3 separate regions of the Homo sapiens genome follow, and regions 1 and 2 are each linked to region 3. The links come from fine-mapping of genetic effects on gene expression. A gene starts in region 3. Each other region holds a variant in brackets. All regions are shown on one strand. Distances are between the middles of the regions. Region 1 overlaps ATG14 (autophagy related 14). Region 2 overlaps LOC107984708 (a long non-coding RNA gene). Region 3 holds the start of FBXO34 (F-box protein 34).

Evidence for each region. PIP is the estimated chance that this variant, and not a neighbour inherited with it, causes the effect.
Region 1: its variant is fine-mapped to the expression of FBXO34 in whole blood (INTERVAL, PIP 0.95).
Region 2: its variant is fine-mapped to the expression of FBXO34 in whole blood (INTERVAL, PIP above 0.99).

What each region holds. Positions count from the first base shown.
Region 1 is chr14:55,369,548-55,372,047 of GRCh38, reverse strand. ATG14 (autophagy related 14) reads left to right here. Exons shown (of 10, transcript NM_014924.5): 10 at 2,123-2,500. The coding sequence ends at 2,429. It also overlaps a transcript of FBXO34 not described here. Among named protein-coding and RNA genes, the nearest start is that of ATG14, 41 kb to the left of the region's middle. The variant G/A (reference allele first, on the strand shown) is at 1,143.
Region 2 is chr14:55,201,817-55,204,667 of GRCh38, reverse strand. The region is part of intron 1 of LOC107984708 (a long non-coding RNA gene); the gene reads right to left. Among named protein-coding and RNA genes, the nearest start is that of DLGAP5, 12 kb to the right of the region's middle. The variant G/TG (reference allele first, on the strand shown) is at 1,660.
Region 3 is chr14:55,269,693-55,272,525 of GRCh38, reverse strand. FBXO34 (F-box protein 34) reads right to left here and starts at 1,105. Exons shown (of 2, transcript NM_017943.4): 1 at 989-1,105. It overlaps FBXO34-AS1 (FBXO34 antisense RNA 1), which reads left to right and starts at 448. Exons shown (of 2, transcript NR_184222.1): 1 at 448-644. RefSeq lists a silencer at 554-1,053.

The DNA.
Region 1 (2,500 bases), 100 kb before region 3:
ACTGTTTGCCAAGGAAAAGAAAAAGGGGAGAAAAGAAATGAAGTGCAAGGAGAAACTTGAGAAGAGGGTGCTCAGAGCTAAAAACTGCAGTGGCCATTAGTTTGCTGGCAGAGAAATTCAAGGGGCAGTAGAAAGTCCTACTCCTTTCACCCTTGCAAAATACTGACTTCTGGGCAGGGTGGGGCCTAGTAAACTTGAGAGCACCCCTAGTCTGAGGGGCTCTTTGTTTTTTTGTTTGTTTTTTGAGACAGAGTCTCGCTCTGTCGCCCAGGCTAGAGTGCACTGGCGCCATCTCGGCTCACTGCAAGCTCCGCCTCTGGGGTTCACACCGTTCTCCTGCCTCAGCCTCCTGAGTAGCCGGGACTACAGGTGCCCGCCATCACACCCAGCTAATTTTTTGTATTTTTAGTAGAGACAGGGTTTCACTGTGTTAGCCAATGGTCTCGATCTCCTGACCTCGTGATCTGCCCGCCGCAGCCTCCCAAAGTGCTGGGATTACAGGTGTGAGCCACCGCGCCCGGCCTGAGGGGCTCTTGGAAAATGTAAATTGCTCACTGGAGACCAAGTGGGAAACCCCATGGCGTATCTTCCAATTTAATAAAGCCCTAAAAACAGTCCCTGGAGCATAAATGTTAGCTATTATTATTGCTTAATCCATCTGGGAAGCACAGGTGTCTGGGAGGAATGAGGGCTGCTTGCTTCTGTAAAAAGTGAGTCAACGGTGCAGACCTGGTGAGGTGCGTTGGAAGCCAGTGCTAGCCATTCATCATTGTGAAGGCTGTGGAGAATTTGGGACCATAGGCTGAAATGGCAAGCTATACGATTCTAGGCTCTCATTTCTGCCTGCTATTTATTTCGACCTCTCCTATTTTCCCCAAAGTCGTTATCAGTGAAACCCTTAAATGAACCAAGGCATCGTGTGCTTATCTTGGGGGCAGCAGCAGGGAGAGAGCGGCACCTTGGTCCCACCCTGTAGCTGGTTGCAGGGCAGTTCCCTGGAAGGCAGTGGGTGGGGGTGGCTGCCTACAGGGAGGACATGCAGCCTGGCTGCCCTGGAGCAGGAGCTGAGGGGCATTTGAAAGGGAGGGGAAAAAGAAGCAGAAAGGCGGCCGGGCGTGGTGGCTCACAACTGTAATCTCAGC[G/A]TTTTGAGAGGCAGGGGTGGGTGGATCACTTGAGGTCAGGAGTTCAAGACCAGCCTGGCCAACGTGGTGAAACCCCGTCTCTACTAAAAATACAAAAATTAGCCGGGCATGGTGGCAGGTGCCTGTAATCCCAGCTACTCAGGAGGTTGAGGCAGGAGAATCGCTTGCACCTGGGCGGTGGAGGTTGCAGGAGCCAAGATGGCGCCACTGCACTCCAGCCTGGGCAACAGAACGAGACTCTGTCTAAATAAAAAAAAAAAGAAATGCAGAAAGGCTTCTGAGGTTTGCTGACTCGGTTCCCTGTGCTGAGGTGCCAGCAAAGAGGATGAGGCCTAAGAAAGGGTTATTGGACTTGGCAGTGAGGGTGTTATTAGGGACCTTTGAGAAATAAAAATTGTTTTCTCCTGAAATACAGTGCAGAAATATACAACATTGCCTCTGAATATATTCTAAACAGTTGTGCCTCATTCTGTGCTAGAAATGTGTCCTAGAAAATTGTGGTGATATTTTTAAATATGTACAGGAACCCACTGAGTTTTCTTTGTATACCATTTATTACTTATTACACTAAATAATATCCAGAGTATACATCAAGTGGCTTTTTGTTAGAATTGTCTCATTGGAGTGCCGTGTATTTACTTCGTAGACACTGCAGTTCTTTACAACAGGAAGTCAGACTTAGGACCAGCATGGGCCATCTCAGTGAATAGGTTTTTTTCCTATGCACGGTCATCACCAATGAAGTAGGCAGACTTGTGGGAAAGTGTGGTATCATGATTTTATTTATAACTTGGGTGGAGATTATTTGGGTAAAGGAAAACGCAATCATATGTCAACACGGAGTGCTGCATAGACTTGGGGAATGAATGGGGTGTGCGGCGTCCCTCATCCCCTCAGGTGAGGGCCTTCAGGAAGATGGCATATTTTCTGGTGTTGAGAATGGTTGTTATCCTAAAGAGACCCTCATTGTCTGCACACAGGTCAGGGCCCTTTGAAGTACGAGCAGACCTTGAGGAGTCCATGGAATTTGTGGATCCCGGAGTTGCTGGAGAATCAGATGAGAGCGGAGATGAGCGCGTCAGCGATGAAGAAACCGACCTGGGCACAGACTGGGAGAACTTGCCTAGTCCCCGGTTTTGTGATATCCCTTCCCAGTCTGTGGAAGTCTCCCAGAGTCAGAGCACCCAGGCGTCCCCACCCATCGCGAGCAGCAGTGCAGGTGGGATGATCTCCTCTGCAGCAGCCTCGGTGACCTCCTGGTTTAAAGCTTACACTGGACACCGTTAACGAGCATGGACCAAAACATACCAAATCTGCATCAAGAAAGTTCTTCTCCCACTACACTCTAGTAAACATTT
Region 2 (2,851 bases), 68 kb after region 3:
ATTTTTGTGTTTTTTGTAGAGACGGGTTTTCACCATGTTGGCCAGGATGGTCTCAAACTCCTGACCTCAAGTGATCCTCCCACCTCAGCCTCTCAAATGCTGGGATTACAGGCATGAGCCACCACGTCTGGCCATTTTTCTTATTTTATATAAATTTATATATAGCTTGAATTTTTCTATTTTGTTGTCAATGATTTTCTTTAATGTTTTTATAATTTCTAAATTATCTGATTCCTTATTACTCAGTAATTCCCCATCTGGGGTTCTCTCTTGAAAAATGATCAGAAACTTGGACACCCTGAAAGGGATCACAGTTAGGTGGAGATGGTAGTGGTGAGGAGGGAAGTGGGGATTCACTTTCTAACGTATACATTTTGCATTGTTTGCCAGGTGTTTTTACTTCTTTCCGTTTTTAAAAATTGTTTGGTTTTTTGTTGTTATTTTTTGTTTGTTTGTTTTTTGAGACAGGGTCTCACTCCCATCACCTAGGCTGGAATGCAGTGGCTTGATCACAGCTCACTGCAGCCTCAACTTTCTGACTCAAGTGATCCTCCCACCTCAGCCTCCTGAGTAGCTGGGACTACAGGTGCATGCCACCATGTCTGGCTAAGTTTTGTATTTTTTGTAGAGAGAGGATTTTGCCATGTTGCCAGGCTGGCCTCGAACTCCGAGGCTCAAGCAATCCTCCCGCCTTGGCCTCCCAAACTGCGGGATTATAGGTGTAACCCACCATGCCCAGCCTAAAAATAGTTTTTTAAAAAATTACAGTACTCCCCTCCCTCATTATAAAGACTTTAAAAATGAGGAAATACTTTAGTGATATAAAAAAGCAGCCTCAACAAAAATCAACATTTTAAAGTATGTTAATTAGAGGATTATTTATAATAGGAAAATGTAAAATAGCTAACAAAAAGAGATTGATTTGTAATATATAATATGTTTAAAACAACAAATTGGACAGATGTTAAAGAAAATGATGTTAACAAAATATTTTTTTAATAACTGGAAAATGTAACATTTAATTCGTTCATTGAGGACTTATAATTAGATTCAGCTATTTGCAGTCATTTTTAAGCTATTATTTATTGTACAAAAACCATTATTAGAACACAAAGTAGAAATTAAAATACAAGAAAGGTTCATACAGTTGTGTCACATCACACGGTAAGTTCCAGGCTTTGTCAGCACGTGCACATAACTTTTAAATAATTGTCATTTAACAACTTTGTGCTTACATATTTTCAGAGGTGTTTTAGGAGGTGTGAGCTTAAATTTTAGAGATTTTCAATTAAGAAGTGTTTTTAATCATATTATGTGAGTTTACAGCATCATAAAAATATTTGTCACTATGTAAAACATCTACATAATAAAAATATCAATCAGCATATTTATTGCATTTCTGCTATGCTTTCTCAGATGGTTCCTAAGGGAAGAATTATTAACAGCCTTTGATGATTGGTGGAAGAAAGCAGCAATAAATGGATGAATAAAGAAAACTTTGGATGAGTTCTACTTTGTTAAAATCTCAAAAGGAACATGTAGTGGGGAAAAAGGCTGATTCAAAGCAATGGCTCACAATGTTGTGAATTAAGTGAAATCTTATCCATGTTTTAAGCAAGTGGTACTGATTAGGAAACATCTTTTTTTTTTTTTTTTTTT[G/TG]AGACAGGATCTCGCTTTATCACCCAGGCTGGAGTGCAGTGGTGCAATCATGGCTCTCTCCACCCTCAACCTCCTGGGCTCAAGCCATCCTCCCACTTCAGCCTCCTGAGTGGCTGGGACTATAGATGCACACCGACATGCCTGACTAAGTTTTTTGCACTTTTTTTGGTAGAGACGAGGTTTTGCCATGTTGCCCAGACTGGTCTTGAACTCCTGACTCAAGCAGTCTGCTGCCTTGAGCTCCCAAAGTGCCGGGATTATAGGCATGAGCCACCACACCTGATGGGAAACATGTTTTGTTTTCTTCATAGACTCCACCAGTTTATAGTTGTGATCAATTACATTAAAATTTTTCATTCATACTAATTGTGTGTGTGTGTTTGTTTGTGTGTGTGTGTGTGTGTGTGTGTGTGTGTAGAGAGATGGCATTTTGCCATGTTGCCTGGGCTGGTCTTGAACCCCTGAGCTCAAGTGATCCTCCTGCCTTGGCCTCCCAAAGTGCTAGGATTACAGGGATGCACCACTGTGCCCGGCCATTCTTACTAATTGTTGACAGCAAAACTTCTTGCTCTTTATTTTTCAACATTTTAATTAAAATGCATATAGTTTCTTTTCTTTTTCTTTCTTTCTTTCTTCTTTTTTTTTCTCTTTCTACTCTCCTGTTAACTCACAAAACAACGTAGAGTTTCTACTGGTAATAATTCAAGGACATTGTTGTTATTGTTGTTGTTGAAAATCTTTATTTTCCAGATGAGGAAACCAAAGCTCAGGAAAGATTAAGTCACCTGCCCAAGGCCACATAGATTAAAACGTGGCAAGATTGGTATTTGAACCAGTCTGTGGGGCCCAAGCCCACACCCTCTCCACACTAATTTTCACAACAATCTGATAAAGTAGATGTTGATATGATCTCCACCTTACAGATGAAGTTTGAGAACAAGATTTGAGCAGCTCCACGACTATAGCTCAGGGTGGACAAACTAAAACTCCACTCTCAACCTTTATGTTATCAGTATTTCTTGAATGAATGAATGAATGATTCCTTTTGCTCCTTTTGTAACCAAAAGACAGACTCAGTCACTCACCACTTGCTGAGTCCAATTAAGAGTGAGGCCTGTTATAAAGAAAGTGACCTTTGTTCCAAAGCTAGCTTAGTGGAAGAAGTACAGGCTCTTGCTTTTAAGGGTACCGC
Region 3 (2,833 bases):
GCAAACTGATTTATCAACACTAGAAGTGGTTCTCTTTTTTTTCAGTAATTCTGATTGCAAACTATCAAACTACGAATTTAGCTTCCTAAAAGGCTTTTTACATTACACCCTCCAAAAAACCTCCTACCCTGACTTAAGTTTTTCTAAATCAAATGTCTTATACTGAGCTGTACTCGCAACGCTTGCTGGACAAGAAGTTAAAGAAATTGACAACTATTACATTAAAATTGCAAAATGCTGATACCGAACAACTTTCGATTCAAATCCACTGCGATTCCAAGCGTTCGTGGAAGACAACTTCCTTTTTCTACCCTGCGGGTCCCCCCGGCCCTTCCGTGAGCCCAGGTCCCCGCCCGGGCCTGCAGTGACATCCCAGGACCCATCTTCTGACGTCACAGACACACGGACCCACAGCCCTATGACTTCATCGTGGACTGAGGACGAACCGCAGTCGACTTGCGCCAGCCCAGAGGCTGGGGAGGCGTCCGAGCCTCCGTCCCGCCTCGTCGTTGAAGAAGGTTAAGGACAAGCGCCAGCTCACCTGCGCTGGGGCAGGGAAGGGCAGAGTGGCCGAGCCCGGGAGGGCGCGACAGGGGCGAGGCGACCCCAGTCCAGAGGCTGACTTCCTCACCGCCCTGGGTCCCGTAAGTGGGAGCGCCGGTCCGGTGCAAGCTCACGGCCTATCCGTGAATCTCCTCGGCTTCAGCGGGGACCCAGGACCCCGCTCCCTACCCGCCCGACCCTCCGTGGCCCGCGGGGACGCTCAGCGCCCGGGCCGTGCGCGCGGAAAGAGCCGCACCGGAGGAGGCGCAGGCGGCCGGGTCCCTACCCCGGACCCGCGGGCGGCGCCCCCGCCCCCACCCCCACCCGCCCCGCGCCCCGGGAGCGCAGGCAGGCGGCGGTAGGGGGCGGGGAGCGGCCACGGTGGCCGCCGCCGGACCCCAGTCGCGCGGCCCTCGCGCCACGCCCCACCTCGGCCCGGACCCACCTGCGCTCCTGCCCCGGCCGCGGCCTGGCCCGGGGCTGCACCAGCCCGACGCAGTGGTGGCGGCAGCAGCGGTGGCGGGAGGCCTGGCTCACTCCCCACCGCTGAGTCGGACCGAGCACCCAGCGCGGCGCGGCGGCGCCCAACGCTCGCCCCGAAACCCATTTGTTTGGCTAAAACGGAGTGACGTCACGCGCCGGCCCAATCGACGGTTGGCCGGGGGAGGGGCCACGGATCCAGAGTTTCACGGCGCCCCCTGCCGGACACTGGGGGCGGGAAGGGGGAAGTGAAAAGGGAGACCTGGATGACGCGTCTGCGGCCCCCAAGTGGTAGAGAATGAAAGTTTGAGCACGACTGTAGGGAAAGGAATCAAACCTCCCAGGCCAGCCAAGAAGGGTAGTGACGCCAGGGTTCAATCAGCAGACATGTCAAGTTTATGAATATTCGTGGGTGGACCTGAAGCTGTAAATGGTCTCAGATACTATTAGATAACCTAGTAGACCTGGATCCTCATACTGGTTCTGCTGCTAGCTTGGAAGGCTGGGGTTCAGAGTTTCAATTTGTAAAATGACAAAATTGGAAAGGTCCCTTCTGACTCTCTTTCCTATGAAAATCATGGCAGGGATACCGGTCAGAAAGTAGATAAACGTTGAGGCTGACACGAAACTGTTAAAGTCTGTAGAAGCTTAAGGGCTGGTTAATGATGGATATAAATTTTTAACACTTTATATTCAAATCAGAGGGCCAGTGAGGAACTTTTGATTCCCAATCTTTAAGCTTATTATTGTTTTCATTGTGAAAATAATATTAACCACATTGAAAAACATGAGGACAATGTATTTTCTTCTAGACCTTTTGCCCCATCACATATATTTTACTACACTGTAATAGTAGTTGTACGCGATTTTGCATCCTCTTTTCACTTTTATAAGCATTCCTCATATTTCCACATAAGCTTCATAACCAGTTTAACAGCTGCATAAAATTACATTAAGTGGACATAAAATTTACTGCAGTAATTCTCTATTTTTGGACATAACTTGTTTCCTTCATTCACTTTTTGCCATTATAAAGAAATCATAGAACATCTTCATGAATGTAGATTTTTAAAGATACCCAAAAGTGAAATTACTAGGTGAAAAAGACTATCAACACTTTCACAGTTACTAATACAAACTGCCAAATGATTTTTAAAAGGTTGTACCAAGTTACACTTAAACCAGCAACTTTGATTTTAGCCAGTCCTTAACAAAAATAATTTTGTCCAATTATAAAACTACTGTTGTAAAATATATGTGTAAAATCTTAAATATTAAAACGTAAAAACAAAATAAAAATATTTCCCATAATCTCATCACCAAGAAATAACCACTCAGTATCTCCATCTAGACCTTTATCTATATACATATTTTTAATAAAAATTGGAGAGGGGAAGTCCAGGCACGGTGGCTCACATCTCAAAAAGGAAAAAAAAAATTAAGGAAGGGTGTTATATGGTACACCGTGGCATCAAACTGTATGTCTGATTTAATATGTGAGCAATATTAGCTCAATATATCATGATCATTTGAAGCTTCTTTATGTCATAGTTAGCTCAAAATTGTAAAACTTCAGTTTATCCTTTCAGATTCATCTCAAACACTGTCCTTCTTAAAACCTCTTGATTCCTTCTGGGCATGGTGGCTCACGCCTGTAATCCAAGCACTTTGGGAGGCCAAGGCATGCAGATCATTTGAGGTCAGGAGATCAAGACCAGCCTTGCCAACATGGTGAAACCCTATCTCTACTAAAAATACAAAAATTAGCCCGGTGTGGCAGGGCACGCCTGTAGTCCCAGCAACTTGGGAG